7 linked regions of the Homo sapiens genome follow. The protein of the gene in region 7 interacts with the protein of the main gene of each other region in a pairwise test. Each region holds a gene or a part of one and is shown on either strand. Other genes may lie near its edges.

Region 1 (4,070 bases), on a different chromosome or scaffold from region 7:
GCCAACTGGACTGCTTCCTAAACAGGACGAGGAAAGTGAGGAATATTTTTATATGAAAGCCTTAGCCTGTCTGGCACCCATGAAAAAAACTATTTATGCACTCCTACTTTCACCGTCTTTTTGCATTCTCTATTTGTAGCACAACAGAGTTGAATGCCACAAAACACCCCGTTTATAGTGAGCTGTTTTCAGTGACCAATATCAGAAGGAGGCTTGCTTCTGGACTAGCCTCACTAATTGCCAGCAGCCACCATTTTCCATGGAATGGCCTTGGGACAGATGTCACCTCTGTTATGGGGCTCTAATAGGAAAGAGAATGTTTTTTCCCTTCCTATGATCAATACTGCAAATTATTGCTGCTCACAGCTTTTATAGGATTCTCCCAACTGAAAGTTGCAGGCTTTTTCTGTCCCTGTGCATCAGTACTAACAAAAGACAGCCTCACCAAGTCTGTATATTTGAACAGAGGCAAGTTAATTCATCCCCCCGTGTCAGAGCCACAGGCATGTTGAGGGGGTTGATACGTAGCACTGGACCAGGGCGCAAAGCCCAGATAGTTCCAGCCATGAGAGGAGAGCACAAGAATGCTCTGCACTCTGCACTCAGCACCACCTTGGGTCTGCTTTGCCCAGATGAGGGACCACTAACAACCTTCTCAGCACATGTGAATGTGGACTGGTTTTAAAATGCATTCATTCTGCTAGGATTGGGCTGGAAGCTGGAACAGTGAGAGTACTTTTTCTGCTCCTAGTCATCTCCCTTTCTCAGCGTGACATCCTCCTGCAGCAAGCCTAGTATCACTAGCAGTAGTTCCTGCGACTCTTAGCAACACAACCCGAATATTTGCTCCCTGCATCTGGGTCCTCCACCAGGATGGGCCTGCGCATCTGCATTGCTGTACAGACAAACAGGCCTTTTAATTTACATCCTCCTTTAATTCTCATTAAAATCGCAGGGTTTTTGTTTGAAAGACAGTCCTTTTTTTATTTATTTTGAAAAAGGAATGAGTTAGGGACCCCTTTATAACTCTCTTGGCTCAGACTCGAACCCCATGGTAAAGTCACCCTTTCCGCATCTATCTTCAGGAGTTGCTGGGACTTGTTACTGTGTAGCTGCGTGGGGATTCTGGTCTGCTCTTGGACCACTGGCTGGTATCCTTTGTGTGTTTCTTAAGCAGCTCAAAGATAGAATGTTGCTGGTCTGCTATGGGTTAGTGGAGCATAACTCAGCCCCAACTGGACTCCACGGGTGGCTGAACCATTAGTAGTTGCTAGGGGTACAACTGAATTCAACTGCCTTCAGAAACAGGGAACAAAACCAGCCTGACTTGATTCCTGGTTGGGTCAGTATCAGACACTAGGAAGTTGACATCTGCTGCTTTTCTTTGCCACGTGTGATTTGGTTAGGCCTGTCCCTGGCAGATAAGGTCCTTGAAGCCTATGCTTGCCTAGCCAGGGAAGGCAGGACAGAAATGGCCAAATAGGGGCAGGTGGCCCCTGGGAAGGTCTGAGCTGAGGGATACAGGGGACCTCCCACCATTGCCGGATACCCTGTTCTTGACAAGAAGATCCTTTTCCCCAGTGCCAAGCCCCTTGGATCCATCAGAGAAATAGCCTCGGGCCTTGTCCTTTTTCACAACCCCACTTCAAAATCATGTCATCTCCCTGGCCTGATCCCGCTCTAAGCTACTTTGAACAACTAGGAATTATTTTTCTCAGAGGCTTTTTGGGCATTATGAAATACATCCTGATACATCCAGGGCAGTATACCCAGAGCTCCAGGCAGAGAGTGATGGAATCACCTCTTGTCACTCACTAGCCTTAGGCCCTTCTGCAGGTTAGCCTCTCAGTCTCTTCCTTAGCTTCCTTAGCTACCACCCAGGGATTGTAGTAACGTCCCTGGCACCTCTTGTGGGGGTTAGCTGGTGCCCAGAGCCTGGTAGGCAGCAGGCCTGGTGTCATGGGGGCTGCTGATACCACATAACATCATCTGGGTTACATGGGCTCCTCTGCCATCATGATTGATAGGAACAGAACCTCAGCCAAAAAGCTTCCTGAGCTGTAGGGGCTTTCCCTGAGGCCCAGGTTCACCTGGCCCCTTTCTTCCTTGGTCATCTCTGCCTTTGCCCACAGTGAACTCTGACTTGGTTGTTCAGTGCTGAATATTTCTTTCTTAATGTTTTGAATAGGTAATCCATTCATGTGGTTCACAAATCATAAAGTAGTTAAAAGCCTTTCTTGAGTTCCTGATGCCTAGCAAGCTCCGCTCCTCACTCCATGAATACCTACTATTGGTTTGTTCCTTGGGTATCCTTCCAGAGATCATTTATGCATGTACACACATGTGTATGTGTGTCTATATAATTTTTCTCCTTTTCTACTCATGTGATACCAGACAAGTGTATTCAAGGAACGCTCCTACTAATGTGGGAAGAGCCATCCCAGAAATCAGAATACAAAATGTGAACCCAGAATTGGGGGATGTTTTTGCAATCACACTCCTGTTGAGTAAGACATATTTTCATTTTATTGCAACATACTGAAATTTTAGTTTTCTGTACAAATCAGAATCTGCAGTCCCTCCCTTACCCCAAATGCCCAGCTAATCCAAGAGCACAACCAGATTTTTCTGATTGACTTTCTATCTGCGACAGGATGCTCAAGATCAGGCTCTGTAGCTGACAGCAGTGGCACAGGCCTCTCCCAGCTCTGAGCAGCCTCTGCAGGTGCCTGGACAGCTGCTGGCCCCTCCCCTACCTTGGCCAGTTCCAAGTGAGGACCAGTGGTGATGTGTGGCTGCAACTGTTGTGGTCACTTAGGCAAGCTCTTGTGTCTTTGATGCAGGAGTTTGAGCAGCAGCAACTGAAGGCTTCTATTTTGTGGGGCAGACATCTTAGCTACTGAGCAAGTGCACAGTGAGTCTCATGTGGATATGCCTGAATGTCCAGCGTCAGTTCATGGAGCTACTCCCTTTCCCTCCCAACTTTTCGTTGTTGTTGAGACAGGGTCTTGTTACCCAGACTGGAGTGCAGTGGCACCATTGTAGCTCACTGCAGCCTCAACTTCCTGGACTCAAGTGATCCTCCCGCCTCAGTCTGTAGCTGCGTCTACAGGTGCACACCAGCACACCTGGCTAATTTTCGTAATTATTTTTTTGTAGAGACAGGTCTCAACTCACTATGTTGCCCAGGCTGGCCTCCTCACTCTGTGCACACACTTTGAAAAGAAAATGCTTCTGGTCGGGCGCGATGGCTCACGCCTGTAATCCCAACATCCCAGCACTTTGGGAGGCCGAGGCAGGCGGATCACCTTAGGTCAAGAGTTCAAGACCAGCCTGACCAATATGGTGAAACCCCCTCTACTAAAAATACAAAAATTTGCCGGGTGTGGTGACGCATGCCTGTAATCCCAGCCACTCAGGAGGCTGGGACAGGAGAATTGATTGAACCCGGGAGACAGAAGTTGCAGTGAGCCAAGATCCCCACTGCACTCCAGCCTGGGCAACAGAGCGAGACTCCGTCTCAAAAAAACACACAAGAAAAGAAAATGCTTCCTACAGAATTTTCCCTTTATGCCTTGTTTTCCATTTGACAACAGAAATTACCCCAACAATTTTTTTTTTTTTTTTTTTTTTTTTTTTTTTTGAGACGGAGTCTCGCTCTGTCACCCAGGCTGGAATGCAGTGGCACGATCTTGGCCCACTGCAAGCTCCGCCTCCCAGGTTCACGCCATTCTCCCGCCTCGGGAGCTGGGACAACAGGTGCCCGCCACCACGCTCGGCTAATTTTTTGTATTTTTAGTACAGACGGAGTTTCACCGTGTTAGCCAGGATGGTCTCGATCTCCTGACCTCGTGATGCACCTGCCTTGACCTCCCAAAGTGCTGGGATTACAGGCGTGAGCCACTGCGCCCGGCCAATAATTTTTTTAGTTTAAGTTCATTTTTGTCCCCGCTGATGAAAGTTAGAGCTGCTTCCTCCAGGCAGCCCTGGGAGTAGGGGCACAGACTTGTGCCTCGCTTCCCAGCAGCTGCCCAGTGCCTCTGTCCACACCCACCTCCCTGGTGTACTTG
Region 2 (4,793 bases), on a different chromosome or scaffold from region 7:
TTTTTTTTGAGATGCAGTTTCACTGTTGTTGCCCAAGCTGAGGTGCAATGGCGTGATCTCCGCTCACTGCAACCTCTGCCTCCCAGGTTCAAGCGGTTCTCCTGACTCAGCCTCCCAAGCAGCTGGGACTACAGTTGCGTACCACCCCGTCCGGCTATATTTGTGTTTCTAGTAGAGACAGGGTTTCGCCATGTTGGCCAGGCTGGTCTCGAACTCCAGACCTCAGGTGATCCACCCGCTTCGCCCTCCCAAAGTGCTAGATTTCAGGCTGAGACACCACACCCAGCCTGTACATTGACTTTCTGCCCTTAAACTGTGCTGAAGTTTGTTTCTCAGATGTAGGAGCCTTTGGGCAGAGACTATGGGGTTTCTAGGTATAGAAATTATCTCATCTTCAAACAGAGGTAATTTGACTACCTCTCTCTGCTACTCTCTTCTTACTTGGATGCCTTATAATTCTTTCTCTTTCCTGATGGCTCTGTCTAGGACTTCAAGTACTATGTTGAATAGGATGGTGAGAGTGGGCATTCTTGTCTTGTTTCACTTATGAAGGGAACTTCTTCCAGCTTTTACTCATTCAGTATGATGTTGGTTGTGGGTTTGTCACAGGCGGCTCTTATTATATTGAGTTATGTTTCTTCAATGCTTAGCTTGTTGAGGGCTTTTAACATGAAGAAATGCTTAGTAAAAAGTATGTTCTACATGTGTGTTGAGAAGATCATGTGGTTTTTGTTTTTAGTTTTGTTTAGGTGATGAATCACATGTATTGATTGTGTATGTTCAACCAACCTTGCACCCTAAGAATAAAGTTGACTTGATCATGGTGGATTCACTTTTTGATATGCTGCGGGATTCAGTTCTTAGTATTTTTTGTGGATTTTTGCCTCTATGTTCATCAGGAATATTGGCATGTAGTTTTCTTTTGTTTAATGTTCTTTTCTGTCTTTAGTATCAGGGTGATGCCAGCCTTATAGAATGAGTAAAGGCCACCCTGGGCAAACAGTGAGACCCATCCCTTTTTAAAAATTATGAGTTTTACAAATTTAAAATGCATAGTGAAAAAGTTCTTACAAACTCCAGAAAGATAGGTGTAAATAAGAGACATTTGTAAGAATGACAGCACATTAAATGTGTAGATTTCAACCTTCAGTTATTGCAATATTCCAGTATCAAGTTGGAGGATGTTATCAGTCTGATATTTTTTCCTCAAATGAGAGAGAGAAAGAAAGACACACAAACAACACAGGGAGAAAAAAAGCACACGTTACAGAGAGACAAAAAGGGAGACAGGGAACTGTGAATTTGGACTCTTGTGTCATAAGACAAATTCTAGATAACACGACCAGACCTTCAATTGACATATTGTGTTTTTGCTAATAAGGTGGAATTCTATGATGCGAAATAACTATATAGTCTTTTCTACTGGGATTTAAATCATTTTATCTGTTTCTGGCTTAACAGGAAAAATACAACCATGGAAAATTATGATGATTTATTTAATACGATTGCTCTATAGTGTTAATAAAACCTATTAGGTATTTTGCATATTACATATCAAGGAGAGTTTGAATCTCAGGTAGAAACAAAAAAAAATACATCAAATTTCCTCATGTGAGTGCAGAATTCAATCGTCCCGTGCAGGGGTAAGTGAGTCTGAGATGTGTTTTGAGCCTGGCCGTTGCGCATGATGTGAAGTGACAAGTCTAGTCTGCAGTTTTCAGAAACCCTCATTCCTCCCTTGACTGATTCACCACTTGAACCTCATATGACGTAGAAGAAGCCTACCTATGTCCCCTTCACATGTTGTGGTCAATGTGTCAACTGCACGATCCGGGCCCCTCACCACATCCTCTGCACCGGTCAGTCGAGCCGAGTCACTGCGTCCTGGCAGCAGAAGCTGCACCATGTCCATGTCACCCACGGTCATCATCCTGGCATGTCTTGGTGAGTCCTGGAAGGGAAGGAGCACCAGGGTTACACTATGGGCCTGCAGATTGGGTGTCTCCCCAGCAGAGAGCCATGTTCTGAAGCAAGTGAGTGGTGAGGATGAGTTAATTTTCAGTCCAGCGTGGCGCCCAGTGGCTCAGGAGGAAAGGGTAGGTTGCTGCCGAGATGAATAGTTCATCATGATCTTTCTTTGCAGGGTTCTTCTTGGACCAGAGTGTGTGGGCACACGTGGGTGAGTCCTTCCCCAAATGATGGGTTGCCATCTTCACCCCAATACAAGTGAATTTTCCAGAAATGGGAGGGAGGCAGCACAGAGGGTGGGCTGATGGGCTGACCATGGGAAGGCCTGGGGGGAGTCTCTCATGAACTAGTAAGAGGAGATCCTGGGAGTCTCTCATGAACTAGTAAGAGGAGATCCTGGGAGTCTCTCATGAACTAGTAAGAGGAGATCCTGGTATGCTCAGCCCTCTGTTTTGTCTTAGCCCTCCCCAGCCTTTCTTCCCCATGGCTGAGTTGAGCTCTGTGTGGCCCAGGCGGGATACTGAGGTGCTCAAAGCTGGGGTGTGTGGGGGGATGTGGTGTCACCGACAGAGGAGGGAAGGGTAGCAGTGTTAGGAACAGCAGGTCCTCTGAGGACAAGAGGGTAACTCACACCCTCCAGCGTTTCCATGACGGTAGGGGCTGCAGTGTGGCTGCTGTCATTCTGCCAGAAGAGGTGGGGGAACCACAGCCACGACCCTGCCATTCCAAATCCTCTGATGGAGCTCAGTTGTTTATTGTGGTTCAGGCATTAGCTAATATTCCATTCACAAAGGTCATACCCTCCACCCCATGTCTACTTTGTGTTCTTTGGTGTAACTAATCTTGCAGTATTAAAATCTAGTAAGAGTCCCTTACTCAGCACCTGCTCAGTTCTCAACTGACACTTTTGTTGTAGGGAGACGCCACGTCTATGCGGGATGGGTCCTTCCTGTAGCCCCAGGCACCCAGGTGTGGTAGGAGCCTTAGAAAGAAGAAATGGGGAGAATCTTCTGAGCACAGGGAGGGAGGGGCAGCTCAACATACTCCTCTCTGAGGCGGCATCTCCTTCTCCCCAAGGTGGTCAGGACAAGCCCTTCTGCTCTGCCTGGCCCAGCGCTGTGGTGCCTCAAGGAGGACACGTGACTCTTCGGTGTCACTATCGTCGTGGGTTTAACATCTTCACGCTGTACAAGAAAGATGGGGTCCCTGTCCCTGAGCTCTACAACAGAATATTCTGGAACAGTTTCCTCATTAGCCCTGTGACCCCAGCACACGCAGGGACCTACAGATGTCGAGGTTTTCACCCGCACTCCCCCACTGAGTGGTCGGCACCCAGCAACCCCCTGGTGATCATGGTCACAGGTCAGAGGGCTCCTGTCTGGGCTTCTCCTTGTCCCACCTCCTGAGTCCCAGAGCTTCTGGTGGGGGTGTCCACCAGAGTCCGATCATCCAGGCCCCAACTATATTTGGGGTAAAGGGGGATTGAATACAGGGGAATGGGTGCTGTGTTGGAAAGAATAACTGTCCCCATCGATGGCCACATTGTAATCCTTGGAGCCTGTGACTATGTTATAGGGCAGGGGACTGAAGGGGAAGATGGAGCTCAGGTTGTTGATGAGTTGACCTTGAGATGGGGAGATGGCCTGGACTCTCCCACTGGGCTCAGTGTAATCACAAGGGTCCATATGAGTGGAGAAGGAAGAGGAGAATGGGGATTAGAGCAGCATCGTGGGATACTCCACCAGCCACTGTGGGCTTTGAAGGTGGAGGAAGACCACGAGCCACGAAGGGGCTGGAGAAATCAATGGAACTGATTCTCCCGAGTCTCCAGAGGGAATGCAGCCCTGCAGATGCCTTGATTGTAGCCCAGGAAGAACAGGGTCTGATTTCTGTCTCCAGAAGTGGAAGGGGTCAGTGTGTTCTCTCCTGCCGCCATGTTTGTGATAATTTTCTCCAGCAACAACAGGAAACCAACACAGGAACCCAGGTGAAGGACAAGTTAAAAAACCAAACAAGAAGGTTGGCTACCCTGAGATCAGCAAGGGTGCACTGCTGATGCCACCACCAGGCTGGAACCACATAGGGAGGGATCGACAGGAAGAGTTGGGGGTGGAGGGTGAGAGAGAGAGAGAGAGCACTAGGCCATAGAGCAGGGCAGTGAGTTCTCAGCTCAGGTGGGAGGGGAGCTGTGACAAGGAAGAACCTCCCTGAGGAAACTGCCTCTTCTCCTTCCAGGTCTATATGAGAAACCTTCGCTTACAGCCCGGCCGGGCCCCACGGTTCGCGCAGGAGAGAACGTGACCTTGTCCTGCAGCTCCCAGAGCTCCTTTGACATCTACCATCTATCCAGGGAGGGGGAAGCCCATGAACTTAGGCTCCCTGCAGTGCCCAGCATCAATGGAACATTCCAGGCCGACTTCCCTCTGGGTCCTGCCACCCACGGAGAGACCTACAGATGCTTCGGCTCTTTCCATGGATCTCCCTACGAGTGGTCAGACCCGAGTGACCCACTGCCTGTTTCTGTCACAGGTGAGGAAAGCCAATGTCTGTCCCATGTCCTATGGTCCTAGAGCCTTAGCTGAGGAGCTTCCTGCTGATGATGGAGAGAAGCATGGACAGATGTGGAGAGAAGATGCAGCATGGTGTGAGGGTGGGATCAGGGCACAGGATGGCAGACAGGGCACCTCCAAACCCTCCTGCATGGCCTGCATGGAAGCTTGCAGTAAGGGCTCCGGGTACCCAGGCAGATGGAGAAAGTGGTCAGGACAGACCCAGAGGAGGGAGACTGGGCTCAGTTTGGGGAGATCAGAGGTTCCCTCAGCCCC
Region 3 (4,683 bases), on a different chromosome or scaffold from region 7:
AGTATATGCCCTGCACCAAGCAGGGCACACTCTGACTTAATCTTTACAACTCTCATTTGTACAGATATAGGAACTGAGGTTAAATACCTTGCTCTGGGCCACAAGACTGGGACAAATTGGGACTCAAAAGAAATGGCAGATCAAATGCTTGGAAGATTCAGGGGGTTGGGAGGGGAGGTAGGGCTTTGGTTCAAGAAGTTAAACAATGAGAACAGAAATTAATGCAGAAAAAGAGTTCATTTGAATTCATTCTATAATCAATAAATATCTGTCAATCCCATTGATTGTGCCAGACATGAGCTCAGTGCTGGGGATAGAGCCCTTTCCCCTTTGGGGAAGCTCACAGATTCACTGGGGCAAGACATACCTAGGAAAAGCTCATTAAGCAGCCAGGAATTAAGTGACCATAAAGAGAAACATCCAAGGTTGTCAAGAGTCCCGGAGTGCACAGGGGAATATCTGTGCCATCAGCCCCTGGTCCCCATCGGCTGACTCCGCTATCACTCCTTCTACTGCCAGGGGTTCCCACCCCCAGGTATCCATTTCTTACCTGGATGGCAGCATCCCACCCCACCACGCACTGGTCTTCCTGCCTCCAGCCTGGTTCACCTTCCATTCACCTCATGAACACTGCAAGCAGGTTTTCTGAATCTCACACCTGACCTCCTGATAGAGTCCCAGATCCTGCACCTCTCCAGCCTCAACTCTGCCCCCTTCTCAGCGGCTCTGGAGGTCCTGGCCACACCAGATTCCTTAGAGACCCTAGTCCAGTGCCTGGGTCCTCCTCCTCCCCTTAGGAACTCCTTCCTGCCCTTTGCAAACATAGCCCAAAAGTCTTTCCACGGAGAGGGCTTCTCAGGACCTAACCCCTACCTGCAGCCACCTAGGGCCACTGCCCTTCCCTAGTCCTTTCCGGGTGCCTCAGACATCAAGCGAGGCTACTACTGGCAACAAAATCCCCCACTTCCAAAATCCCTTTTTCTGGGAAAGGCAGAATCCGCCTGCAGCAGCCAATTGGGCAGGCGCCAAGAAAGTAGTGAAGGGTCAGAGGGGACAGGAGGCCACCCGCAGCGCCCACCCTGGATAGGGATAGGTTCGAGAGGTTGCTACTGAGCTGCAAAATAACCCCGTCTTTCCTTCCCGCATATGGTCTTGTATCTGACAGTCCCTGTGTCTCACAGCGGTAATCGTGTGTTGCATCGATGCGTTTGTGGTCACCACGAAGATGAGGACCAACTTGAAAAGATTCCTGGGAGTCGAAGTTGAAAGGAAGCTTTCCCCCGCCAAGGACGCCTACCCCGAAACCGGCCCCGACGCCCCGCAGAGGCCCGCCTGAAGCCAGCCCGGCGCCCTAGCAGATGCACGTGTCTGTCGAATCGCTGCCTCCGAGCCCACCCCCGAGCTCGCATGCTGTCACCCATTCCAGCCTAAATGTGACCATAAAATTAGGGCTGCTGCTTTTATCGAGAACACCTGCTTCCTCTCGTTGCCTTGTGTGAAAGTCGCGTTGTATTTTCCTGCGCTTGGCGCTGCGCCCGCGGAGCTCAGGGCCGTGACCCGGTGCTCGCAGCCCCCCGACCCCGCAGCGGAGCGGCGGCTTACAGACCTGGGGCCACCTGGAGACGCCGGGATGGGACCGCGAGGGCAGCTCCGCGCGGAGGTGGGACCGGCGGGTTGGGAACGGAGTTGGGGCCCGTCGGGGGCCGGCGCGTGGAGGGTGGGAGGATCCGGCCGCTGCCGGGCGGATGGGAGCTGCGCGAGGAGACGGGCGCGCGTGGAGAGGGCGCGGGAGTTGGCATTCGGTGGTCCTGGCAGTTAGCTGAGCACGCCCTCTGAGCCGCTCGGTGGACACCAGGCACTCTAGTAGGCCTGGCCTACCCAGAAACAGCAGGAGAGAGAAGAAACAGGCCAGCTGTGAGAAGCCAAGGACACCGAGTCAGTCATGGCACCTAAGGCGGCAAAGGGGGCCAAGCCAGAGCCAGCACCAGCTCCACCTCCACCCGGGGCCAAACCCGAGGAAGACAAGAAGGACGGTAAGGAGCCATCGGACAAACCTCAAAAGGCGGTGCAGGACCATAAGGAGCCATCGGACAAACCTCAAAAGGCGGTGCAGCCCAAGCACGAAGTGGGCACGAGGAGGGGGTGTCGCCGCTACCGGTGGGAATTAAAAGACAGCAATAAAGAGTTCTGGCTCTTGGGGCACGCTGAGATCAAGATTCGGAGTTTGGTGAGCTAAACTGGTATCCCTGGGTGGGGGGCCTTGGCCGAGGGTGGGGGGAAGGAGGAGTAGGCTCCAGGGGTCCTCAGAGAGATGGTGAAAGGCCCTTGCTGCTGGCTCAGGTGTCTATGTCTCACTGCAGGGCTGCCTAATAGCTGCAATGATACTGTTGTCCTCACTCACCGTGCACCCCATCTTGAGGCTTATCATCACCATGGAGATATCCTTCTTCAGCTTCTTCATCTTACTGTACAGCTTTGCCATTCATAGATACATACCCTTCATCCTGTGGCCCATTTCTGTAAGTAAGGGGTGATGGGGAGTGCCTGCATCCAGAATGCTGATCAGGTGTGTCTTGGCACCTGGAAAGTCACCAAACAGAGAGACACACCTCACCTCCCATATCTGTGCCTGGGTCAGGGACTCAGAACATCAGTGGGGCCCAGGCAGAGGCAGCTGGGTGCAAGAGGGGTAGCTAGGCAGAAAATGCTCCAAAAAGCCTATCTGTGTGTTGGAGTGAGAGTGGGGAACTCTTACTTACCTGGTGGTCAAAGAGGGCCTGAGCCTTTGTTCTCTTTAGGGGAAGGGGAGGTGTAGCAACCAGCTGTTCCTCCGAACTCCTGTGCCAGCTCACACTTGACAGGAGATCACCCCAGAAGGACCCCATTCCCAAAATTCAAAGAAGAAAATTACTCTCCCATAAGTCAATAAAATAAAACAAAATGGGAATTTTTTTTAAAAATCACTTCTAAAGCAGCGTTAGGTCTCCAGTGAATATCCCTATAAAGGATGTTTGGATCAGAAGGATGTTCAGCCCAAAGCAGTCATCTAGTGGAAAGAGACAGAACTGGGCAAGTTACTAAACCATTCCCAGCCTGTTTCCTCATCTGTAACATGAGACAGTCACATTCCTTGCAGAACTGACATTCAATCCTGAGGATTAAATGTAAATTGCTTGACACCGTGCCTGAGGACTCATGGAATTGAATCCCTGCCCATCACCTGTTTAACCACAGGGCACAACCACCTAACCCCTTGCCAGTCAATGAAGACCCCAATTCCCAAGTCCCTTTGTTCATTGCACATTCACAGCCTGCCTCCAGAGCCCTCTTGTTCACTGTTTCACTCACGTTACACATGAGGAAATTGGCCTAGAATGGCCAAGTAACTTGCCCCCAGGTCACTCAGCTGGTAAGTAGCAGAAAAAAGCTTCAAACTTAGCTTTATGAGTACATTTCATCCTGCCTTCTTGTTAAAAACTATTAGGGTCCAGGGATCCAGAGGTCTTGGTGAAGCAGATGAGGACCTCCGATACAGGGAGAAAGGACAGGAGGGCCAAATAAGGACTCTCAGAAAAGGGACAAGCAGAGGACAAGGTAAAAGGACAGGCAGAGGACAAGTTCCTAAACAAGGAGCCTGAGAAGACATTTTTAGTTCCAGCAAGATGAAAAACCAATGAACCCTGAACATCTTCCCACTGTGCTTACCTAAAAATACCAGGGGAAATGTAACCAGTATTGCTTTAACTGAATGAATGAGCTGGCAAAAAAGAAATGAAAACACACAGGCGCCAGAAATGGCAAACAGGGCAGTGATCACATAAGCTACAAAGTATGAGTGGGAATGGTCCAAGAGGTATTGTCTCAGGAACCTACAGCCTGGATTTTCATGCACTCTCAAGTCAGGAAATAAGGCCTTGATCCTAAGCAAAGTGGGAATTTAGAACTGAAAACCCTGTATAAAGCCAGCGCCCTGGAAAGACTACCTCCTTAGGGAAAAGATGGACAAAGACACATACCCTTCTTATTCCCAACACAGAGGAATAAGAAAACATGTTCATCTCTGCCTGAGCTTTGAGTGGGCGGAGAGGAAGTCTTCCTTGAGAAATAGAAAGCTTAAGCCTGCCCTTTGTACAGATTGGAGTTTGAATTTTTGTTATCTGCAGCCTAGAAACCTTCATGCAGCCCAGAAACCTTCATCCCTGGGAATTACCATAAAAACTGATCCCAGTCTGATGACATTCTGCTGATATCCTTGGACTCCTGATAGAAACAAATGCAAAATCACAATCAAGGCATGAAGAGATTCTCACAGTGGGGGTGGGGGGAAAACCTTGTCAAAAATGAACTAATAATTCAAAACTACTAAACACCTGATTTTAAAAAATCCCCATTACTAAGAATCAACAAACACAACAAATGGATTAGAATCCTGAGAATATGAGATAATAGAAGAGCTGTCTGAAAATAATAATATATTTTAAGGGATTATAGACATAAGAGTCCTGAGAAAAGAGTAAGACACTATGAGGACAAAATAGACAGATTTTTAAAAAGTACAGTGTCTAGAATAGAAAATATAGTTATTGAAATAAAAATGTCAATAGATGAATTCAAAAACAGATCAGACATAGCTGAAGGAGGGAACTGTTAACTGAAAGGTATGGGGAAATTACCCAGAACACA
Region 4 (4,748 bases), on a different chromosome or scaffold from region 7:
GCCTGTAGTCCCAGCTACTCGGGAGGCTGAGGCAGGAGAATGGCGTGAACCTGGGAGGCGGAGCTTGCAGTGAGCCGAGATCGCGCCACAGCACTCCAGCCTGGGCGACAGAGCCAGACTCTGTCTCAAAAAAAAAAAAAAGAATCCAGTCCATAGTCCCCTGAGCCATGTGCCCTGGGGTGCAGCTGGGTCCTTCAGGAGAAAAATGCTCTATTTCTGGCACTGGGACCGAGCCTGATGTGGGTTTTTTGTTGGTTTTTGTTGTTGTTATTGTTTTTGAGACAAGGTCTCGCTCCACCACACCCGGCTAATTTTTGTATTTTTAGTAGAGACGGGGTTTCACTACGTTGGCCAGGCTGGTCTTGAACTCCTGACCTCAAGTGAGCCGCCTGCCTCGGCCTCCCAAAGTGCTGGGATTACAGGTGGGAGCCACCGCCCTGGCCCTGGGCCTGATGTTGATGACCTCCTACTATGTGCACCTGCAGCTCTCCTGCATAGGCCTCAGCCGTCCTGCATGAGGACACTGGGAGGCAGGTGCTCCCTATCAACCCCGTGTTACAGTTGAACAAACTGAGCCCCAGAAAAGAAAACGTATTTGCCCAGGTCACACGGTGAAGAAGTGAGGGATTCGAAGCCCAGGTCCATCTGAAGCCAGAGTCACCCAGAGGAGAAAGAGTTGGAATTGAGAACTCAAGGAATGCTTGGAAGTGATCGGGCTCGAGCCCACCTAGGAAGAAACAGAGGCTGGAGACATGAGACTGTGTTGCTATTTCCTCTCATCAACCCTTGGGCCCTATTGAGGCCCTACCACAAGCCTGGCCCTGCAGCCCAGTGACTAGGAGAAATTAGACACAAGATAATAATAACAGCAATGATCTTTTTTTTTTTTCTGAGACGGAGTCTTGCTCTTTCGCCCAGGCTGGACTGCAGTGGCGCGATCTCGGCTCAATGCAAGCTCCACCTCCCAGGTTCACGCCATTCTCCTGCCTCAGCCTCCCGAGTAGCTAGGACTACAGGCGCCTGCCACCACGCCTGGCTAATTTTTCATATTTTTAGTAGAGATGGGGTTTCACCGTGTTAGCCAAGATGGTCTCAATCTCCTGACCTCGTGATCCGCCTGCCTCGGCCTCCCAAAGTGTTGGGGTTACAGGCATGAGCCACCGCGCCTGGCCAACAGCAATGATCTTTGAGCACCTATATTGCCAGTCTCCACGGTAAGAGCTTTCTTCATTTTTTGTTTTGTTTTGTTTCAAGACAGAGTCTTGCTCTGTCACCCAGGCTGGAGTGCAGTGGTGTGATCGCGGCTCACTGCAGCCTTCACTTCCCGGGTTCAAGCCATTCTCCTGCCTCAGCCTCCCAAGTAGCTGGGATTACAGGCACGCATCACTACTTCTGGCTAATTTTTGTATTTTTAGTAGGGACAGGGTTTTTCACCATGTTGGCCAGGTTGGTCTCAAACTCCTGGCCTCATATGATCTGCCCACCTCGGCCTCCCAAAGTGCTGGGATTACAGGCGTGAGCCACTGCGCCTTTCTTTGTATTTGTTCAAGTAATATACTGAAATATGTACTGTGCCTCCCACTTTATGGAGGAGGAAACTGAGGCCAGCAAATGAGGCTGTCATGGGAGGTGGAGACAGGATTTGAACCTGCCTCAGTGCAGGAGGCTCAAGAGCCTCTGTCTTCTCTCAGGGCACTGTGTGGGAGGGTGAGAAGGAGGGAGGCCCACAGAGGCATGACCTCTGATTGCCACTGTCACCTGGGCCCTGCTCTCTGAAGTCTCTGCCAAGCGGGGAGGTGGCCGGGGGAGGGCCCTGCTCTGTGCAGCCTCCCCTCCCCCGGCCCGCAGAGTTGAGCACAGAGGGACAGAGGCACGGAACCCCCAGAAATGTCCCTCCTCAGAAACAGGCTCCAGGCCCTGCCTGCCCTGTGCCTCTGCGTGCTGGTCCTGGCCTGCATTGGGGGTGAGAAGAAGTGGGTGGAGGGATGTGGGGCCCACACCTGGTGGGTGTGAGTGTGGCTGTGTGTCCTGTGGCTCTGTAGCCACGTGAGACATGAGTACGGAGTGTGTGCGTTTCATGGCGTGCGTATGCATGTGCGTGTCGGGGAGTGTGTGTGTCGGTGGCTGAGAGTGAAGTGTGAATGTCACATTGGTACAAACTGGGATCATCTGTGTGTGTGCACGTGCGTGCGTGGAAGTGGGAGTATGCAGTCGTGGTAAAAAAGTGCATGTCTGTGTGCATATGTGTATTTGTGTGCACCTGTCTCTCTGTGGGGTATGTGTGTGCAAAATATTTGAGTGTGTGGACATGTGTGAGGGGGTGAGTGTGTGCTGGTGTGTACGTCTGTGTTTTGCATATGCATTTTTTTTTTTTTTTTTGAGACGGAGTCTCACTCTGTCACCCAGGCTGGAGTGCAGTGGTAGCAGTGGTGCGATCTTGGCTCACTGCATCATCCGCCTACCCGTTTCAAGGGATTCTCCTGCCTCAGTCTTCAGAGTATTTGGGACTACAGACACACGCCACCATGCCTGGCTAATTTTTTTTTTTTGAGACGGAGTCTCGCTCTGTTACCCAGGCTGGAGTGCAGTGGCGTGATCTTGGCTCACTGCAACGTCCGCCTCCCGGGTTCACGCCATTCTCCTGCCTCAGCCTCCCGAGTAGCTGGGACTACAGGAGCCCACCACCACGCCTGGCTAATTTTTTGTATTTTTACTAGAGACGGGGTTTCGCCGTGTTAGCCAGGATGGTCTCCATATCCTGACCTCGTGATCCGCCTGCCTCGGCCTTCCAAAGTGCTAGGATTATAGGCGTGAGCCACTGCGCCTGGCCAATGCCTGGCTAATTTTTTTATATTTTTGGTAGAGACAGGGTTTTGCCATGTTGCCCAGGCTGGTCTTGAAATCCTGACCTCAGGTGATCCGCCCGCCTTGGCCTCCCAAAGTGCTGGGATTACAGGCATGAGCCACCACGCCCGGCCATGTACTTTATGTTAAAATGGGATCATATTCTAGATCAGCATTATCCAGTAGAAATTTAAATTTTTAATACAGGGCCAGGCACGGTGGCTCATGCCTGTAATCCCAGCACTTTCGGAGGCCGAGGCGGGTGGATCGCAAGGTCAGGAGATTTGAGATCATCCTGGCTAACAGATGGGTAAAAACCCATCTCTACTAAAAATACAAAAAATTAGCCATGCATGGTGGCATGCGCCTGTAGTCCCAGCTACTCGGGAGGCTGAGGCCGGAGAATCACTTGAACCCGGGAGGCAGAGGTTGCAGTGAGCCGAGATCGCGCCACTGCATTCCAACCTGGGTGACAGAGCGAGACTCCGTCTGAAAAAAAAAAAAAATTTAACACGTATGTAGACAATGTGCAAGGCACCATTCCATGTGCATCGTATGTAGTAACTCTTAATTCTCACGATAACCCTGAGGTAGATATTATTACCCCGTTCTACAAAAGGAGAAACAGTCCTGGGGAGACAGGATAAGTCACCGGCCAAGGCACACAGCTAGCTACATGTGGCCCCCGCGTGACGGCTGGTCTCTGTAGGCGAGGCTTTGTCCAGATGCGTGGGTAGAAGGTCTGGCCCGGAAAGAGGAACTGACAGCAAGGCTAAGCCAATGTCTGCCCCTGGGGGCAGAAAGTCACCTCCTGCTCTCCCTCCACTGTCCACAGAGGTAGCTCAGACAGGGTGGGGGTCACAGGAGAACGAAGGGAGAAGGGGGTAGTTCCTGGGCAGCAAAATCAGGTGGTGAAGGGAGGCATCAGAGGATGGCAATTAGAGAGGCCATTAGAGGGGAACCACAGGCAGACAGGGTGACAGGAGGGACTACTGACACAAGGTGAAGAGATGGCCCAGCCGGACGGGGTGGCTCACATCTGTAATCCCAGCATTTTGGGAGCCCGAGGTGGGTGGATCACTTGAGGTCAGGAGTTCGAGGCCCCAACATGGCAAAACCCCATCTCTTCTAAAAATACAAAAATTAGCCGGGCATGATGGCAGATGCCTGTAATCCCTGCTACTCGGGAGGCTGAGGCAGGAAAATTGCCTGAATCCAGGAGGTGGAGGTTGCAATGAGACGAGATCATGACACTGCACTCCACCCTGGGCAACAGAGCAAGAGACTGACTCTGTCTCATAAAAAAAAAGAAAAAAGAAAAAAAAAAAGAGATGGCTGATGGTTAAAGAGGGGTTAGCGGTCAGGGGACACATAAGGGTAAAGGCAGGAGGCAAGAGGACTGGCAGGGGGCTGCCCCTGGGCCACCGGGAGCGACACAGGATGAGCATGGAGGGAAAGGGAGAAGGGGATTCTAGGGTCCCAGCCTACCCAAGTTGCCCTCTGGTTCCACCTAGCATGCCAGCCAGAGGCCCAGGAAGGAACCCTGAGCCCCCCACCAAAGCTAAAGATGAGTCGCTGGAGCCTGGTGAGGGGCAGGATGAAGGAGCTGCTGGAGACAGTGGTGAACAGGACCAGAGACGGGTGGCAATGGTTCTGGTGAGGGTGTGCTGGGCTGGGTGGTGGGAGGGGACTCCTGGGTCTGAGGGAGGAGGGGCTGGGGCCTGGACCCCTGAGTCTCAGGGAGGAGGAAAGGGTGGGAGTGGGGCTGTGACCCCTAGGTCTGGGAGGAGTGGAGGGTTAGAGCTGAGAGCAGGAACTCCTAGGTCACAGAGAGGAGCGGATAAATGGGGCAGAGAACACCTGGGGAGAGCTGGGGCCTCCACTGTGATGTCCTCTCTCCTGTA
Region 5 (4,852 bases), on a different chromosome or scaffold from region 7:
TTCCTCTGAGCCAAATATTTGATATCATCAAAATAAGAAAACAGAAGGAGGTTGGGCGAGATTAGCATCTGTAGTCCCACTGAAAACAATTTAGTGAGCATTAGGAAAGCCCAGTTTCGTTGATGGGGGATGGGGAGATGATCACTGGAAATTAGATACCATTCATCACTACCAATTTAGTGCTATTAGTTCTTCTGGCAAATGAAGTTATGGGATTATATCAGGGTCATGCATTGGTGTTTTCTGGTATTTTTGCACAGAAGCCTGATAAAACCCATTAAGAATTTAAAAGGGGAAGCCCTCAGTGGGGTGGACCTGTTGCATTTGACAACATTGAGCTTTTCCTTCTCAGGGCTAACTCCTAAGGAAGAGAATTAGCATATTTATCCTCTGTACAAAGAGGGCCAGTAACATCAAGTGCATTGAGGTTTCTGCTTAAACCTTTGGACTATGGTGCAGGGACCAGGTAATTTAGAAGAGTGCAGCCCACTACAAGAGCTATGGCCCATTAGAAAGTTCAAGCCTTGACCAGGTGCGGTGGCTCACGCCTGTAGTCCCAGCACTTTGGGAGACTGAGGCGGGTGGCTCACCTGAGATCAGGAGTTTGATACCAGCCTGACCATCGTGGTGAAACCTCGTTTCTACTAAAAATACAAAATTAGCTTTAAAAATTAGCTATTAAAAATTAAAAGACGATAATGAATTCAAACACAATGTCTTAAAAAACCAAAAACTACGAAAAACAACACAAAACTCCACAGCACTGAGTGGACCACTGAAAACCTGCCATGGGCAGGCTGGACGTACAGGCCCCAAATTTGTTAGCTTTTCATCTCCAAGGGCACGAATGCAATTGTGCTGCCGAAATGTCTTGCCTTTAGAAACGCGTGTGTGTGTTTTCCCCCTTTCATTATTAGAATATCAGGTTTTAAATGGCACTGGCAATCAGCCACGTAAAATTTGTGATTTTAATAGAATCCCTTCAATTAAGGACACGTGCAAATACCACTATGCCAACAGCAGTCTGACTCGGCCAGACAGATAGGATATTGTCATCATCACCGCTTCAAAGATGACTTAACGCCCCTTAATTTCACATCCTTTGTTCAGGCAAGATCACAGCATGAGCGGCTGGACTTAAAACTGTAGTAAGTATAACGTCTCCCATTTACTAGATACTTACACTGTAAGGAAACCATTATCACCCCCACTTTACAACTGATGAAAGAAGTACATAAAGGTTGGTGATATGATTGGCAATAGAGTTCCCAGGCGCCTAAGCTCCAGGGCGCAAGGTCTCAACTCCTGGCGTCTAAGTTTATACCTCCCATAATAATACCGTCCATTAGTTACTCTAGAGTCCTCCTGCCTTGTTTTTCTTAACGTTTTACTTCTCTGCAAGAACATATTTTAAAAAGTTGCTTCTACAATTTAAAGTACAAAAGTAATACTGTACAGGAGTAAGTCTTTGTAAAATATTTAAAGAAAATTATATTATACAATAAAACCCCGCCCCCCTGCATTCGGGGCAGCGACACTGGGGGAACGACTTTAGAATTTGCATTGGGTGGACAGCAAATACTTCCGTAAAACAGACCATGAAGCTTTCCACTTAGAGCCCACTGTGGCCCCAATACCTTTCCCTTTCGCTCCTGCTCCAGGCTCCGCCTCCGCCGTGTCCGGGCCGCTCGCCCCGCCCCCGCTCGCCCCGCCCCTGGATTTGCTCCCTCAAAGCGGAAGTGAGGCCGGACTGAGGCTCTTACAGTGGTCCCTGCTGGCCCTTGGTGACGGGTCGCCTCAGTTCCGACCCGGACCCGTACGCTGCTGCGCTGACGTGGCTCCCGGAAGTAGGGCTGGCGTAGGGCCGCCATGTTGCAGCAGGTGAGGGGCTGAGGGCTCGCTGGGAGGGTGGCGGCTCCTGGGACTGGCTCTGCAGGTTCCGTGGGACTGGAGCCCGCGTCCCCCGCGCCCGCTACTCGAACTCGAGGAGGAGCGGGGCGGCCGGGAGTGGAGGGCTGTGGGTAGTTGTCTGAGGAGGGCTGCTGGGGGTTCTGAGGCCGCTGGGGGCGGCGTGACCCGTGCGGCGCAGAGCAAGTACTTCTTGCGGCTGTGGGGACGCCCATTGTTAACCAGCGCGAGTGGGGGTCTCTCTTTCCTCAACCCTTATTGCCGGGGTGGAGTTGAGGAGGAGCGGCCTGCGGGCCTCTTAGCTTCCTGACACCCAGGGGTGCGATGCTATTTTGTAGGAATCGGCGACACCGCCAGAGCCTCGCTTTCAAATTGCTGTTTCCAAACTAATGTTGTTGGTGATTCTCTCCTTTGTGCTCTTAGAGTTAATTGTAGTCCACATGTTGGCAACCAGAGACTCGTAAGATTAATAATATTTTTAGAAAAAACTACTGTTTATGGTCACTTAGATTGTCTTAAGTGTTTTTTTCTTTCGGTTCACACAAAATTTGTTGAGGGATTACTATGACTCAGACACGGTTGTAGGCCCAGGGATAGGGTTGTGACCAGTACAGACAGGTTTCTTGCCCCGTATTTTTGGGTTAGGGAAGTGGGTTCTAGGAGATGGGGGTTGGGTGGGGAGACACGATAAATTGTATAACCAAAGATATTTTCAGATAATTGCAAAGGCAGGGTGATGAAATAACAAGTGTCTGAGGATAGGACAACTAAGATTTATGGTCAGGAAAGACTGCTTATGAGGAGATGCCTTGAGTGGAGAAAATCTAATAATGGTTAAATTCAGCTGTATTACAGGAAAGGTGTCCCGATCCAGACCCGAAAAGAGGGTCCTTGGCCGGGCGTGGTGACTCAGGCCTGTAATCCCAGCACTTTGGGAGGACGAGGTGGGTGGATCATGAGGTCAAGAGATCGAGACCATCCTGGCCAACTTGGTGAAACCCTGTCTCTACTAAAAATACAAAAATTAGTTGGGCGTGATGGTGCACGCCTGTAGTCCCAGCTACTCGGGAGGCTGAGGCAGGAGAATCGCTTGAACTGGGGAGGCTGAGGTTGCAGTGAGCCGCGGGCCACTGCACTCCATCCAGCCTGGCTACAGAGGGAGACTCCGTCTCAAACAAAACAAAAAAAGTCTTGGATCAGGCAAGAAGGAATTCAGGGTGAGTCCACAGTGCAAAGTGAAAGCAAGTTTATTAAGAAAGTAAAGGAGTGGCTACTCCATAGAGCAACCTGGAGGGCTGCTGGTGGCCCATTTTTATGGGTATTTCTTAGTGGTATGGTTAACAAGGGGTGGATTATTCATTCCTCCCCTTTTAGATCATAGAGAGTAACTTCCTGATGTTGCCATGGCATTTGTAAACTGGCATGGCGCTGATGGGAGTCTAGTAGTGAGGACGACCAGTGGTCACTCTCGTGGCCATCTTGGTCTTGGTGGGTTTTGGCTGGCTCCTTTATTGCAACCTGTTTTTTCAGCAAGGTCTTTATGACCTGTATTTTGTGCCGACCTCACATCTCATCCTGTGATTTAGAATGCCCTGTCTGGGAATGCAGCCCAGTAGGTTTCAGCCTCATTTTACCCAGCTCCTATTGAAGATGGAGTTGTTCAGGTTCACATGCTTCTGACATTTGAACCTGCGCCCAGGCCGGATGAGGCTGGAGAAACACAACAATGTTGACTGTTCCCACTATTTATTTATTTATTGATTGATTGATTGATTCATTCATTCATTTATGAGACGGAGTTTCACTCTTGTTGCCCAGGCTGGAGTACAATGGTGTGATCTCGGCTCACTGCAACCTCTGCCTCCCGGCTTCAAGCGATTCTTCTGCCTCACCCTCCAGAGTAGCTGGGATTACAGGCGCCTGCCACCACGCCCGGCTAATTTTTGTATTTTTAGTAGAGATGGGGTTTCACCATATTAACCAGGCTGGTCTTGAGCTCCTGACCTCAGGTGATCCACCCGCCTCAGCCTTCCAAAGTGCTAGGATTACAGGCGTGAGCCGCCAGGCCCGGCCGACGGTTCCCACTTGATAAATTTGTGACGTGAACCTCAGTCGAGCCCTTAGTGCTGCCAGGCGGTCATTCTACATTTCCATAGCCCCTTCACCCTCTCGCCTTAGGCAACTATTAAAACTCAAATCTTCAACGTTTCTTCTCTTATCCTCTCTCAGCTGGTAACGTTGCTTCTTGTTTCACTGAAAATGGAAGCCGTCGGAAGACAATTTTCACACTAGCTGCCTAGTTGCATGTTTACTCAGGGTCTCATATTCTTTTATGATAATTGGACTGTTAGTGCTCCATTCTTAGGTCTTCCTGTCTACTGTGTCCTGGTTTCCATCTCCTCTTGCCTACTGGAAGGCATTGTTCTAGTAATTCTCTTTCTTGTATCATCAGTTTTTTAATCCTTTTAAACGTTTGCTCACATCAACATATAAACGTGCTTTAATTTCTCTTACCTTAAAAAATGAAAACTTGGCCGGGCGCGGTGGCTCACGCCTGTAATCCCAGCACTTTGGGAGGCCGAAGCGGGTGGATCACGAGGTCAGGAGATCGAGACCATCCTGGCTAACACGGTGAAACCCCGTCTGTACTAAAAAACAACAAATTAGCCGGGGGTGGTGGCGGGCACCTGTAGTCCCAGCTACTCGGGAAGCTGAGGCAGGAGAATGGCATAAACCTGGGAGGCGGAGCTTGCAGTGAGCCGAGATCGCGCCACTGCACTCCAGCCTGGGCGACAGAGCCAGACTCCGTCTCAAAACAAACAAACAAACAAACAAAACAAACTTGACACCACATGCTCTTTCACTGGTCACTCCATTCTTTTTCCTTTAAAGACTTGTATCATATATGCTTGTCTTTTAATTCTTCCAGTCTCTCTTGTATTCA
Region 6 (4,070 bases), on a different chromosome or scaffold from region 7:
GTAATTCTGATATACAGAAATTTTCAAAAGCCATGCCTTGATCAGATGTTCTGGGTTGCATGGATGGGCCTTAAAGATCCACAAAACCTTTACATTTTTATTAATATTTTGTGTCAGTGTGATTTATTTATTTATTTATTTTTGCATTTTCCCGGGGAAAGTGTTCATGACTTCTATTAGATTTTCAAAGGGGTCTTTAACCAATAGCAGATTAAGAACCACTTCCATGTAGGAGTAATCAGGGGTTTTGTAATCTCTGATCTGCTTAAAGGGATAGATTGTCATCTGATTGGGCAGTGTTCTACAGGCAATCCTTCTCCACAAATTGTTAAAACTCACAGGTGCTTTTTTTTAATTGTTACATTTCCTACTGTGGTTGCTTTTGCAACTGTTATTTTTCCAAGACTGTTAATGTAAACAAGAAGGAAAGTCATAGGCCGACAATAGGAGCACCACCCATTACATACAAACTAAAGATTAGACTCCAGTTGAATTAGTATTGTTACATCCACACAGCAAAACAAGGAGTTAGAACACTAAGAGTTCTTTTCATTCCTTCCCTAGGGAATTTTCCAAGTATAAAATAGGACATTTTTCTCTGTGTTAACCATAAGAGTCGACTCTCTGATATGCTAAAGAATTGCTGTCCGCTCTAGGCTCAGAAATGGCCCTTCATCTACTGGTTTCCCTTTCCCTCATTACATTCTGAGTAAATGACCTTCTTTCTGTTGCTAGAAATTATTACCATCTCAGGCTCTCTTCCCTTGCTCTCCCTCCTTACTAAAATACTCTCCTTTTCTAATGACTAGTTCTTGAGCTTACAGCTAATCTAAAAGTCACTTCCTCAGAAACTATTCTATGACCATTCTTGTTAATACTGTCTTCTTCCATTCCCACTGCCTGTTATTCTCTATCACTTTACCTTGTTACAGTGTCATAATATTTGTTACCATCCGAAATGACTTATTTATTTTTAATCAAGTAGCTAAGTGAAAGTAGAGACCAAATCACCTGACTGGTTGCAAGAGCACAGTACATGGCATATAGTGTCAGGCACTTGAATTAATTAATTAAGGAAAGATATCTTGCAGATCAGACCTAAAGCCCATCTACCTCAATTTGACTGAGAAATCCTGAAGGATCTTTGCTCAAAGACACAGCAATATCTGCTCAAGAGATAAATCTGCGGGTGGTAGAGCCAGGATCTAAAACATACCCATAACTCCCTGCTCAAGGGAAGACCATAAGCAAAATAGGGGGTGGAGGATAGGAGGAGACGTCAGAAAGTATTGCTAAGCACTTAACATGTACAAAGCAGGGACACGGATTGTGAAGGAATAGTCTAGGCTCTTAATCCCTTCTCCTCAAATAATTTGCAGTCCTTATGGTAAAATTACTTAAGCCAATGCACAATGCCATAAATAAAAATGAGTAGCAAGATAAATGTCAGCCAAAGATCACAGGCAGTTTCCAGCGAAAGGAGTTCTCAATGGGTCCAGTGTGCTTAGGGAAGTGTTTATGGCAAAAGCAAGATGTAATTTGGGCCTTGAATGACTAAACAATATTTGATTTGGAAGAGAGAATGAGAGGAATAACAATGATTCATAAAGGTGGGAATTTTACTTTATTTACTCCAATATGTCTGATGCCTAAGTGGTGTGTCAGATGCATAGTAAATGCTAGAGACATGCATTTGAAACAATGAATAGACTGGATTGTTCTCTCCACTTGCTTTTGGATCAGCTTGGAGCTACCTAGACTGCATTTTGCTCATCATTTTTCTGAAAAATATACATATTCTTAACTCCTCTCACCCTTTGAGAGCCCTTAATTCTAGGGAATATTTTCCCCTCTGGGTTCCATGATGTATTTTCCTGGTTCTCTCTCTACCACTAGCCATTCTTTCTCATTCTTTTTATTTGACTTTTCTTCATGCACCTGCCCTCCAAATGTCATTGTTCCTCAGAATTCCAAACGTGCTTGGTTCTTCACATTGCAGTTTACACATTGGGAACACTGCCTATAATCTAATGAGTTTCAAATTCACATTTCTGTTGCAATTTTTTCCTGAGCTCCAGATGGAATAACTGATTGCTTGCTACAAAATTCCATCGTTTTTCTACCACTATTTCAAATTCCACTGGTCTAAACCCAAGCCCATCATCTCACTCAAAACCTTCCTCCATATCTCATTAAGTCACATCATCATCCACCCAGAATCCAGAAATCTAAGGATCTTCTCAAATCCTTCCTGCTCATCATCACCTTCATCGAATTGCTGAATATTCTACCCTATATACCTTCCTCGGGTATATGTATATGCACCCTATATACATTTCTCTTCCTCAGCTCCACTGACTAGTTGGTCAAGTTGAGTCCTTTATCATCTCTTTCCCAAGTTCCTTTTATTGGATTTCTAATAAGTTTCACTTTTCTCTGTCTCTCTTTTTATTGGATTTCTAATAAGTTCCACCTTCTGTCTCATCAATTCATCTTCTACCTACTACCAGAACTTTATATCAAAAAAATTTAAATTTGGTCATATCACTGCCATGCTTGAAAGTTTTTCATGAATTTCCATTGCCTCCAAAATTCAAGCAAATGCATTAGGCTGATGTCAAATGTCCTTCTCTGATGCCAATGTATCTTTCAGTCACATTTCTCACCTCTGCAACCTGAAGCCCCAATGACTAATGAGTTTCATTTTAAAGCAGGTCATGTTTGTATAAACCCCCAATATCTGTGCGTGTGATTTTTCCCTCTGCTGAAAATGCCTAGCCCCAAAGCCAAAACCCCACTCTGTTCACTTGGCAAGTCTAATCATTTTCTAAAGCCCAATTCAAAAACAAACTCTGTAAAAAAGTCATAGACACTTAACATCAGAAATTTCAGTTTTTCATATTCAGGGATTTCATAATCCTTTGCAGAAATCTTCATAACAACTTTTATCCCCACATTGTATTAAATTACTTGTATCTGAGTTGTCTGTTTTCTCCACTAGACTGCAATTCACAAACCATATTTTAGTTATCTTTTACGATCTCAGCAGATACCCTGGTACCCAGTCCTTAAGCCATAGGGCATAATGTTTCTAGCATTTAGTAATGACTCTGGAGAGCCAAATTTTTAAATTTTCTTTGTAACTTACCAGCCATGTGCTTTGGACAGGTTGTTTAATCTTTAAGCTTCAAAGGTTTTCTCACACATAAAAAGAGATAATAAAGATGCATTCAACAAATATTTATTAATTTCTACTATTTGCCATGCACTGTTCTAAGTGCTGGGGATATATTACTGGAAAAATATACCAAAATATATGACTTTATGGAGTTTATGTGTGAATAGATACCTAACTAATGGGTTTGTTGGCAGATGCAAAAAAGATAATTATGCATAAATTACTTGCCCACTATGAACTATGTAGAAATTTTAGGTCTTATTTCTTTCTGACATAGAAAAATCTAGAGAAGAACAGTGTGGCTCAAACATTATACAGCGCCTTAGTGATCATTCTAACACTCCTGTTCAGTCTCAATTGTAATTCTTATTTTCTCTTTTTTTCTCAAGAGGATTTATGGAATTTGATGATAATGAAGGAAAACATTCATCAAAGTGACATCCTCAGGTGATTTTTCACTTAAAATTTACAACTGAAATAACAGTGTATTGGACAAAGGAAAAAGAGTCTGTCCAGTTTTATTTAATAATTTTGGTTACCCATGTCTACCTACAAGCAGAAAAAGTACATTTTAAAAAAATAAATGAATATATTTTTTTCATGTACAAGTTTCTAATAATAAAATTTTCTTAAGAGAGGAGGTAGAGCTGTGAGATGAAGTGAATAAGGATGGCAAGTTTGGAGACCTGATTCCTGTCACAAATCTGCTAGGAACTTGCTTTGTACAAGTTCAGCCTGTGAAATGAGGGGCTAGCACGCACTAGCAATCTAAGGACCCACGTAATCATGCAGTTAGTTACTCATAAGAAGAGTGAAATTTGCTGAACCTAATTCAGAGAGAAAGGATAACAAACTTTCTATCTCACGCAGTTAGATATATGGGCAAACAATA
Region 7 (4,070 bases):
TTAACATTTTACCATGTTTGTTTTATCATTCTCCCTCTGTATAATATGTACTAATTTGTTCTGAGCTACTTGACAGTAGGTTATAGACATGATGAATACTTCAGTGTGTTATTTCCTAAAAACAAGGAAATTCTCTTATACAACCACAATTATAATATCAAGATCAGGAAATTAACACAGATATAGTACTATTATCTTATTTAAAGACCTGTAAATTTTGCTAGTTATCCCACAGTATCATTTATTTTAAAAATAAATAAAAAAATGTATTTTTCAGAAGTTAGGCTTGAGTTCTTATTAAAAAATTAATTAATTAAATTTTTTTTTGTCTGGTCCAGAATCTGACCCTGGATCACATGTTGAATTTGCCTGTTATGCTGCTTTGGTCTCATTTAGTCTGGAAGAGTTTCTCTGTTTTTGTCTTTCATGGCCTTGACTATGGGTGATTTATTTTGTAGAATGTCCCTCAATTTGGGTTTGTTTGATGGTTTCTCATGACTGCATTCAGACTATGTTTTTTGACAGGAATACCCTAGAACTGAAATTAAATTAGAAACCCATGATATCTCTGTCCCTTTACTGGTGATGTTTACTTCAGTGACTTGCTTAAGATGGCCTCTGCCAACTATACACTGTAAAATTACTATGTTTTTCCTTGGTAATTTATAAGTATTTTGAGTACTTGTTAGTTCCTTTGAGACTATGTAAATATCCTGCTTTTCATCAAATTTCTACTACTTAAATGCTATTATAAACTATAATATTTCTACTATCTAAAAACTATTCTAAATTCTTAGCATTTATAATTTTTTTATTTTTTTAAAAATTATTTATTCCTTTATTTATTTTTTGAGACAGGGTCTCACTCTGTTGCCCAGGCTGGAGTACAGTGGCACAATCTTGGCTTGCTGCAACCTCCATTTCCCAGGCTCACTCGATTCTCCTGTCTCAGCCTCCCAAGTAGCTGGGACTATAGGCATGTGCCACCATTCCCAGCTAATTTTTGTATTTTTTGTAGAGACAGGGTTTTGCCATGTTGCCCAGGCTGGTCTCAGAGTCCTCAGCTCAAGCAGTTCACCCCCTCCTTGGCCTCCCAAAGGGTTGGGATTATAGGTGTGAGCCACTGTGCCCAGCCTATTTTTATTTTTTAATTAATTAATTTTTTTTTTGAAATTTTTTGAGGCAGGGTCTTCCTGCCTCAGTGCAGGCTGGAGTGCAGCGGCGCGATCATAGCTCACCACAACCTCAAACTTCTGGACTCAAGGTTTCCTCCCGCCTCAGCCTTCCGAGTAGCTAGGACTGCAAACACACACCACCATGCCTAGCTAATTCTTAAATTTTTTTTGTAAAGGCAGGATCTCGCTATGTTGCCCAGGCTGGTCTTAAACTTGTCGGCTCAAGTGATCCTCCCTAGTTGCCTCCCAAAGTGCTGAGATTACAGGTGTGAGCCACCATACCCAGGCAGTTTTAGCATTTAATGATGATTCTTCCTGTAACAATTATGACTGTGGTGGCCAAATGGGCATTTTCTAAAGTCTATCATTCTTTCTACATTTATTGGTTAGTATTATGCTCTAAGGAAGTGTTTTCCCTTCCCCCCTCTATTTACATATTTATTTATCTATTTATAATTTATTTCTATCAGTAGGGACTCATGGATTCTTATTTTATTCTGTAGATTTATAATTCATTACAGGTTGAGCAGCACAAATCTGAAATCCTGAATGCTCAGATTCAAAACTTTTTGAGCATTGACACGTCATTCAAAGGAATTGCTCATTGGAGCATTTCAGATTTCGGTTTTTTGGATTTGGGATGCTCAACCAGTAAGTGTTAAAAGCGCATATTCCCAAATCTGAAAAAATCCTAAATCCAAGTATCAGATAAGGGATCTGGTCTCAAGTATCAGATAAGGGATACTCAACCATTTTTTCATCTCCTGATAGGATAGGCTACACATGGAACTTTTACGTAAGCCTCAATACTTAAAGAATAGTATTTCTAGAGATTTTCTAGTATTTCTATCTGTTTGGGTGTACCTGACTAATCCATAGCTAAAATTCCTCTACCGCAGTTCTAGAATAAGGAAAATATGATGGTGTCTTAGAACCTCACAGTTTTTTAATTAACTTTAGCAATCTGCACATCGTGCTGCCACACGAGGCTTCATTCGTTATGGCTGGCGCTGGGGTTGGAGAACTGCAGTGTTTGTGACTATATTCAAGTAAGTTCACTCTGAATTGTGAGATAGTGAATTTTCTTGATATTGTTTTAGGAGTGTGTCTTTTGAGCAGGTGGGGTTATGAAAACTGAATACCCACATGAAAGTGATTAATAATGCCTTTTTTTTTTTTTCAAGAACTTTTCTCTGTGTAAAAGACTGGTGTAGTTATGGTTTTACAACCATGTCTGGAACACATTGAAGGGGCCTAGGCTAGGAACAGGGATTGATATAGTAGGCTTTTCTAAATCTATTAAGTCAGTGAAAATAACACTCAAGAAGGTAAATGGGATATGCTTTAAATCTTATATTTTCCTTCTCCTCCCTTTTTACCAGCACAGTGAACACTAGTCTGAATGTATACCGAAATAAAGATGCCTTAAGCCATTTTGTAATTGCAGGAGGTAAGACATTTTTGTTTATATTTTTCAGTCTTCTCAAATACAGTTTAGAAAATGTGTAAGGACTTATACATCAGAACTACTGAATTCTTTGGTTGGCTTCCCATTACATCTCATCAACATTGATGCAAAATGTATTTATGGACAGTGTTGTGCTTCACCCTTGATATACTCAATGGGCAAAACAGCAAGGCCCTTGCTTTCTTTGAATTTTAATGTCTAATATGTATGTGATAATACAGGTTGTTGTGATAGAAAGTAACAATTCGGTGGAACAATGGGATCTCATATGGACAGGGTAGTCAAAGAAGGCCTTTCTGAGGAAGTGACATTTGAGCTGATACCAAAGAATAGGAAGGAGCAAGACTTGCAAGGAAGGGTGTCCTAAATAGAGGGAACATCAAGGGGGAAGGCTCTAAGGCAAAACATTTCCTTAAAAGCAGGATAATAACGTGGTGAGTGAGGGAAAGAGTAGCTTGAGATGAGATTGGTGAGGACTATAGGAATGGACTAGATTTTTTATGGTAAGAACTTGGATTTTATTTTAAAGCTCTCTGCCTCTAGTATATATATGTATATTTTCTTTTTAATGAGCATTAAAAATAGAAGGTACAATGGTGATTACCAGAGACTGGATATGGGGTTGGAAAAGATGTTGGTCAAAGGATACAAAATTTCATTTAGACAGGAGGAATAAGTTCAAGAGATCTATTTAAAACATGGTAACTATGGTTACTAACAGTGTATTGTATACTTCAAAATTGCTTTTAAAAAGTAGATTTTGGCCAAGCGGTGGCTCACACCTGTAATCCCAGCACTTTGGGAGGCCAAGGCAGGTGGATCATCAGAGGTGATTTGAGACCAGCCTGGCTAACATGGTGAAACCCCGTCTCTACTAAAAATACAAAAATTAGCTGGGTGTGGTGGCAGGTGCCTGTAATCCCAGCTACTTGGGAGGCTGAGGCAGGAGAATCACTTGAACCCAGGAGGCAGAGGTTGCAGTGAGCTGAGTTCACGCCATTGCACTCCAACCTGGGCAACAAGAGTGAAACTCTTGTCTCAAAAAAAAAAAAAAAAAGTAGATTTTAAGTGTTCTCACCACAAAAAATAGTATGTGAAGTAACGTGTAGGTTAATTAGCTTAATTTAGCCATTCCCCAATATATACATACTGCAAAACATGTTATACACCATATGTGTACAATTTTTACTTGTCAGATTTAAAAAATAATTTTAAAATGAGCATTCGTTTCAGAAAGGTAAGTTAACTGCTATATACACTCAATCACTAACTTGTGTACATTCTTTTATGTACAACACACATATGTATTCTGAACATAAGTTTGTTTTTGTTTTTTTTTTTGAGATGGAGTTTTGCTCTTGTTGCCCAGGCTGGAGTACAATGGCGCGATCTCAGCTCACCACAACCTCCGCCTCCCAGGTTCAAGG

What was found.
Region 1: the proteins of TIMMDC1 (region 7) and RNF24 interact in binary tests that used the Homo sapiens proteins (3 or more experiments, as listed by UniProt).
Region 2: the proteins of TIMMDC1 (region 7) and KIR2DL4 interact in binary tests that used the Homo sapiens proteins (3 or more experiments, as listed by UniProt).
Region 3: the proteins of TIMMDC1 (region 7) and CMTM2 interact in binary tests that used the Homo sapiens proteins (3 or more experiments, as listed by UniProt).
Region 4: the proteins of TIMMDC1 (region 7) and APOC4 interact in binary tests that used the Homo sapiens proteins (3 or more experiments, as listed by UniProt).
Region 5: the proteins of TIMMDC1 (region 7) and TVP23B interact in binary tests that used the Homo sapiens proteins (3 or more experiments, as listed by UniProt).
Region 6: the proteins of TIMMDC1 (region 7) and C5orf46 interact in binary tests that used the Homo sapiens proteins (3 or more experiments, as listed by UniProt).

Annotation. Positions count from the first base shown.
Region 1 is NC_000020.11:3,928,321-3,932,390, reverse strand, and holds part of RNF24 (RING finger protein 24), read left to right. Parts: 3' UTR 1-4,070. UniProt on the Homo sapiens protein: May play a role in TRPCs intracellular trafficking.
Region 2 is NC_000019.10:54,801,748-54,806,540, forward strand, and holds the start of KIR2DL4 (killer cell immunoglobulin-like receptor 2DL4 isoform c precursor), read left to right. Parts: upstream 1-1,862; 5' UTR 1,863-1,904; coding exon 1,905-1,944; intron 1,945-2,143; coding exon 2,144-2,179; intron 2,180-3,045; coding exon 3,046-3,330; intron 3,331-4,203; coding exon 4,204-4,497; intron 4,498-4,793. UniProt on the Homo sapiens protein: Receptor for non-classical major histocompatibility class Ib HLA-G molecules. Recognizes HLA-G in complex with B2M/beta-2 microglobulin and a nonamer self-peptide (peptide-bound HLA-G-B2M).
Region 3 is NC_000016.10:66,577,666-66,582,348, forward strand, and holds the start of CMTM2 (CKLF-like MARVEL transmembrane domain-containing protein 2), read left to right. Parts: upstream 1-1,797; 5' UTR 1,798-1,942; coding exon 1,943-2,227; intron 2,228-2,360; coding exon 2,361-2,519; intron 2,520-4,683. Other genes in the region: CKLF-CMTM1 protein, read left to right, coding at 1,166-1,336; CMTM1 (CKLF-like MARVEL transmembrane domain-containing protein 1), read left to right, coding at 1,166-1,336.
Region 4 is NC_000019.10:44,940,391-44,945,138, forward strand, and holds the start of APOC4 (apolipoprotein C-IV precursor), read left to right. Parts: upstream 1-1,846; 5' UTR 1,847-1,887; coding exon 1,888-1,963; intron 1,964-4,358; coding exon 4,359-4,500; intron 4,501-4,748. UniProt on the Homo sapiens protein: May participate in lipoprotein metabolism.
Region 5 is NC_000017.11:18,779,425-18,784,276, forward strand, and holds the start of TVP23B (Golgi apparatus membrane protein TVP23 homolog B), read left to right. Parts: upstream 1-1,758; 5' UTR 1,759-1,869; coding exon 1,870-1,881; intron 1,882-1,889; exon of another isoform or gene 1,890-3,125; intron 3,126-4,852.
Region 6 is NC_000005.10:147,896,539-147,900,608, reverse strand, and holds part of C5orf46 (uncharacterized protein C5orf46 precursor), read left to right. Parts: intron 1-3,567; coding exon 3,568-3,616; 3' UTR 3,617-3,625; exon of another isoform or gene 3,626-4,070.
Region 7 is NC_000003.12:119,501,397-119,505,466, forward strand, and holds part of TIMMDC1 (complex I assembly factor TIMMDC1, mitochondrial isoform 1 precursor), read left to right. Parts: intron 1-2,135; coding exon 2,136-2,224; intron 2,225-2,557; coding exon 2,558-2,625; intron 2,626-4,070.